Linked DNA regions of Homo sapiens: region 1 is linked to region 2. The links come from fine-mapping of genetic effects on gene expression. A gene starts in region 2. The other region holds a variant in brackets. All regions are shown on one strand. Distances are between the middles of the regions.

The links. PIP is the estimated chance that this variant, and not a neighbour inherited with it, causes the effect.
Region 1: its variant is fine-mapped to the expression of ARSH in breast (GTEx, PIP 0.93).

Annotation. Positions count from the first base shown.
Region 1 is chrX:3,025,463-3,028,388 of GRCh38, reverse strand. It overlaps ARSH (arylsulfatase family member H), which reads right to left. Exons shown (of 9, transcript NM_001011719.2): 7 at 914-1,076. Among named protein-coding and RNA genes, the nearest start is that of ARSF, 15 kb to the left of the region's middle. The variant G/A (reference allele first, on the strand shown) is at 1,171.
Region 2 is chrX:3,004,806-3,007,731 of GRCh38, reverse strand. It overlaps ARSH (arylsulfatase family member H), which reads right to left and starts at 1,186. Exons shown (of 9, transcript NM_001011719.2): 1 at 1,028-1,186. The coding sequence starts at 1,119.

The DNA.
Region 1 (2,926 bases), 21 kb before region 2:
AAATACAAAAATTAGCTGAGCATGGTGGCGCCCGCCTGTAGTCCCAGCTACTCAGGAGGCTGAGGCAGAAGAATCACTTGAACCCGGGACGCAGAGATTGCACTGAGCCGAGATCACACCACTGCATTCCAGCCTGGCTGACAGGACGAGACTCTGTCTCAAAAAAAATAAATTTAAATTAAATTAAAAATAAGCTCATAGACAAAGTGCAAACCAGAAAGAATAATATCATTTAGCACACATGCAATTACACATACGTGTTTTGTTTTCGTTTTTGTTTTTGTTTGAAACAGGGCATCACCCTGTCACCCAGGCTGGAGTGCAGTGACGAGATCTCGGCTCACTGCAATCTCTACCTCCTGGGTTCAAGCGATCCTCCCACCTCAGCCTCCCAGGTAGCTGGGATTACAGGCACGTGCCACCACACCAGACTGATTTTTGTATTTTTAGTAGAGATGGGGGTTTCACCATGTTGGCCAGGCTGGTCTCGAACTCCTGACTTCAAGTGATCCGCCAGCCTTGACCTCCCAAAGTGCTAGGATTACAGGCACGAGCCACCGCACCTGCTCTAGGCATACATGTTTTTATTCAGTAATCATTTAACACTTAATTGCATAATGGTCTAGAAGCTGTGAGGGATGTGATGATGTATGAGAATCAGATCCCATCCATGAGAACAGTCAAACACACACAGGCATAAGTGTAATATGACAAAGGATATTAAGGTATACTCTAAGAAGAAAACAAAATATTCCACCACGCACCAAGGGGAGAAAGACATCTGGCCCTATGGGCAGAATATTGATAATTAAGTAATATACTATGTACATACACACACACATAGAATTATCAAGTATATCCACTTATGTTCAAATATATCACCCTAGGTTAGGAGCAAACACTGTTTCCATACCTGTCCTGGGACAAGATCCCTCCGCCTATATAAGACAGCGTCGGATAGATGTCCATTAAGCTGGTGGGCTCATTGATCACTCTCCCAGCCTCCAAGACTGACGGCCACCGGAATATCCCTGGCACACGGATACCTCCTTCCCATCCTCCCATTCCTTTGCCACCTAAAACCAAAGATTACGACACAACCAAAGATGAGTTAAAACCCAACCATATTGGCCGGGCACGGTGGCTCACGCCTGTAATCCCAGCACTTTG[G/A]GGGGCCGAGGTGGGCGGATCACTTGAGGTCAGGAGTTCAAGACCAGCCTGGCCAACATGGTGAAACCCCGTCTCTGCTAAAAATACAAAACCATTAGCTGGGCATGGTGGTGGGCGCCTGTAATCCAAGCTACGTGGGAGGCTGAGGCAGGAGAATCGCTTAAACCCAGGAGGCGAAGGTTGTGGTGAGCCGAGATCACGCCACTGCACTCCATGGTGGTGCATGCCTGTAGTCCCACCTACTCGGGAGGCTGAAGTCGGGGGATCAGAGACGAGGAAGTGGAGATTGCAGTGAGCTGAGATTGTGCCACTGCACTCCAGCCTCGGTGACAGGGTGAGACTCTGTCTCCAAAAAATAAAAAAGAAAAAGAAAAAGAAAAGAAAAATACAGGTTTTATCCACATTATAATGATCCTTGAGGAACAAGCTAAAAAACTTTACCCCGTGATTTCCCATATAGAGGAAGAAAGAGAGGAGTGTGAGTAGAAAAATGGCCAGAGGCAGAGTTGAGAATCACTTCTTAGACAAAAGTCCCCTTGGGTGTTTCTGAGCACAAAACAAAAATGAAGCCCTTGCCGTAAGATCAATCATGAGACTGAGGCGGTTGTTACAGAATAGAAAAATGGCCCTATGCCAAATGCCAGTGTCAAGACCATATGTCTAGACTCTTTAAGAAAAAATAGGAACCTCTCTGGAGGAAAAGGTCTCTTCCTATGTGAAATTTTCATTGAATGTCTTCTACGTGCGCACCTGTCTGACAGGCAGCATTACAAAGAAACACAAAACCGGAAGCCTCTAGCAGAAAATGAGGTAAAATTCACTGCTGACACATTCACTGATCTAACCAGTCTAACCAGTGTTGAAAGGCAGCTCAGCTTCTTGGCACCATTCTTTTTTTATTTTTATTTTTTTTAATTAAGACACTGTCTCCTTCTGTCACCCAGACTGGAGTGCAGTGGCGCAATCATAGCTCACTGCAGCTTCCAACTCCTGGGCTCAAGCGAGCCTCCCTCCTGAGCCTCCCAAGTAGCACCATTCTTTATTATAAGAAAAACTCGACAAGCTCACTGAACCAAATCTATGTGCTTTTAACATACAATCATAAAGCCATCCTGATGTTTTCTTCATCGTATTTAATAACCTGTATCTTTGTGGGGCAGAGCTGCGAGGTGTAACTAGACTAGAACAAAACCCATTGCTTACCCAGGAGATCTAAATCTCTCTATCCATTGAATTCATCGCTTCACAGGAAGCACCCTGAGAAACAGGCATCCTGTCCCAAAGCCTGAGAAATGCTCACAACAATTTTGCCAGTCCTATTCCAGGGTTATGTGTGCTTTTTAAGGACAGGGGCTTTACACTCACACATACTCATGCAATTATAATAATTATTATAATATATAATAGGTACAGTTGTTAGAATCATCATGACTGTAATAATCACACTTCGTTAGATGGCATATATATGGTGACTCAGATCTGTTCCTCACTTTTTCTACTAGGTTTAGCACCAATTTAGTCTTTGCTAATTAACAGTTATGACTACAGCAAGTCCACATGACAAGCCAGAGGAGGTGAATGCTTTCAGGAGCTCACTTCTATTAATTTACAATATATAATCCAGTATCCACAATCCTATATATATACAATGAATATAGTGAATATATATATAGGATTATGTGTAATATATAATGAATATAGTGAGTACATATAGTGAATATGTGTAGGGTTATGTATACTCTATACAGTGAATATA
Region 2 (2,926 bases):
CAGTCTATGGTATTCTTTTATAGCAGCCTGAAATAGACTAAGACACCTCATAAGAAGAAGAGATGAGGACACAGACCCACACAGAGGGACGACCCTGTGAAGACACAGGGAGAAGACGGCATCTACAAGGACAGGAGAGAGGCCTCAGGAGGAACCAGCCCTGCCCACACTTTGATCTTGAACTTCCAGCCTCCAGGACTGTGAGAGAATAAGCTGATGTTATCTAAGCCAACCAGTCTGTGGACCTTTGTCACGGCAGCCTGAGAAAATAAATACTTTATATGATTACTTGTATATGAAATTCTAAGAAGAGACACATCCATAGAGACAGAGGGTACATTTGTGGTTAACAGGGCATGGGGATAGGATGGGAAATGGGGGTCTTCTTTGTGGGGGTGACGGTTGTCCAACACTGTGAATGTACCAAATGCCACTGAATTGTTCACTTTAAAATGGTTAAAAGGTGATTTTTTTTTTTTTTTTTAAACAGAGTCTCCCTCTGTCACCCAGGCTGGAGTGCAGTGGTGGGATCATAGCTCACTGCAGCCTCAATCTCCCTTGCTCAGGCAATCCTCCTGCCCCAGCCTCCTGAGTAGCTGAGACCACAGACACACGCCACCATGTCCCAGTAGATTTTTTTTTTTATTATTTTTGTAGAGACGGGGTCTCCCTGTGTTGCCCAGGCTGATCGCAAACTCCTGGGCTCAAGCAATGCTCCCACCTTGGCCTTCCAAAGTGCTGGGATTATAGGCTTGAGCCGCCATGCCTGATCAAAAAAGGCCAATTTTTAAATGTAAATTTTGCCCAACAATGAAAACGCCACCACCAACAGCTAGAATCTAAGGAAACTGGGAGGTTAAGTGGTCTCCTGACATTTTGCAATTTTCCCCAGTGACCTCTGCTATTCCTGCCGATAACATCAGACAATGACTTCTCTCCAGAAACCCTTCTCTGCAACGGCAAAGACGTGAACACTGTGGTAAGGGAGACTCCCACATACAGGGAGGGGGTCAGAGTCCATCTTTACCTCACTGAGTTATTACCGTAGCAGCACAAATCCCCCACTCCAAGGTCATCTGCCATCAGCAGGACAATGTTGGGTCTGGCGTTTCTTGTCATAAATGTGCCATCAACACCGCAAAACAAACAGCACAGGGACACTGACAGCCAGCAGCTCCTGAAAGCATTTTTAGAAATAAGCAAACAAACAAGCAAGCAAAAAACCAGGCACTATCAATTAACATTTGCATTTTAGATAACTTAACATATGAAACAGTGATATTCGTTATCAGTTCTCACTGTACAACGTACCTGTGTTGTCTTACTCAGAAACTAGATTAAACAACAACAACAAAAACTAATGTTCTATACCGGGGTCCCCAATCCCCTGGCCATGGACCAGTACTGGTCCGTAGCCTGTTAGCAACCAGGCCACACAGCAGGAGGTGAGTGGTGGGCAAATGAGTGAAGCTTCATCTGTATTGACAGCCGCTCCCCATTGCTTGCATCACTGCCTGAGCTCCACCTCCTGTCAGATCGGTAGCAGCATTAGATTCTCATAGGAGCGAGAACTCTATTGTGAACTGTGCATGCAAAGGATCTAGGTTGTGTGCTCTTTATGAGAATCTAATGCCTGATGATCTGTCTCTGTCTTCCATCACCCCCAGATGGGATCATCTAGTCACAGGAAAACAAGCTTAGGGCACCCACTGATCATACACTACGATGAGTTGTATAATTATTTCATTATATATTATCGTGTAATAATAATAAAAATAAAGTGCACAATAAATGTAATGTGCTTGAATCATCCTGAAACCATCCTGCACCCCCTTCCTGTCTGTGGAAAAACCGTCTTCCACAAAACCAGACCCTGGTGCCAAAAATGTTGGAGACCATTGTTCTATACGAATATGGCATCATATTTTACCAATTCATTTTGCAAGCATGATGAGGTTTAACTCTTATAACATCTTTTGATATTGTTTTAGTGACATCAGAGGCTTAAAATTTATAACAGGGGTTACAGTTGAGGGTAAGCTCTAAAAATTGAATTTTGCCGGGTGCTGTGACTCATGCCTGTAATCCCAGCACTTTGGAAGGCCAATGCGGGTGGATCATTTGAGCCCAGAAGTTTGAGACTGGCCTGGGCAGCATGGTGAAACCCCATCTCTACAAACAATACAAAAATAGCTGGGCATAGTGATGCATTCCTATAATCCCAGCTACTCAGGAGGCTGAGATGAGAGGATTGCTTGAGCCTGAGAGGTCAGGATTGCAGTGAGCTATGAATGCACCACTGCACTCCAGCTTAGACAATAGAGCAAGACCCTATCTCAAAAAAAACTTTTTTGTTTACTTTATTGAATAAAAATGTAACCAAGGCCGGGCACAGTGGCTCATGCCTGTAATCCCAGTGCTTTGAGAGGCCAAGGCAAGTGGAATACCTGAGGTCAGGAGTTTGAGACCAGCCTGACAAACATGGTGAAACCCCATCTCTACTAAAAATACAAAATTAACCGGGCATGGTGACACGCGCCTGTGGTCCCAGCTACTTCAGAGGCTGAGGCAGGAGAATCACTTGAACCCAGGAGGCGGAGGTTGCAGTGAGCTGAAATTGCACCACTGCACTCCAGCCTGGGTAGCAAGAGTGAGACTCCGTCTCAAAAAAAAAAAAAAAGTAATACCATCTGCTCGGGAGGCTGAAGCAGGGATAATTGCCTGAACCTGAGAGGCGGAGGTTGCAGCGAGCCAAGATCGCGCCACTGCACTGCAGCCTGGGCAACAGAGAGAGACTCTGTCTCAAAAAATAATAATAATTGTTCATATTTATGAGGCTTATAGGGGTGTGTGTGTGTGTGTGTGTATGTGTGTGTGGCACCATGCCCAGCTGATTTTTGTATTTTTTTTGGTAGAGATGGCGTTT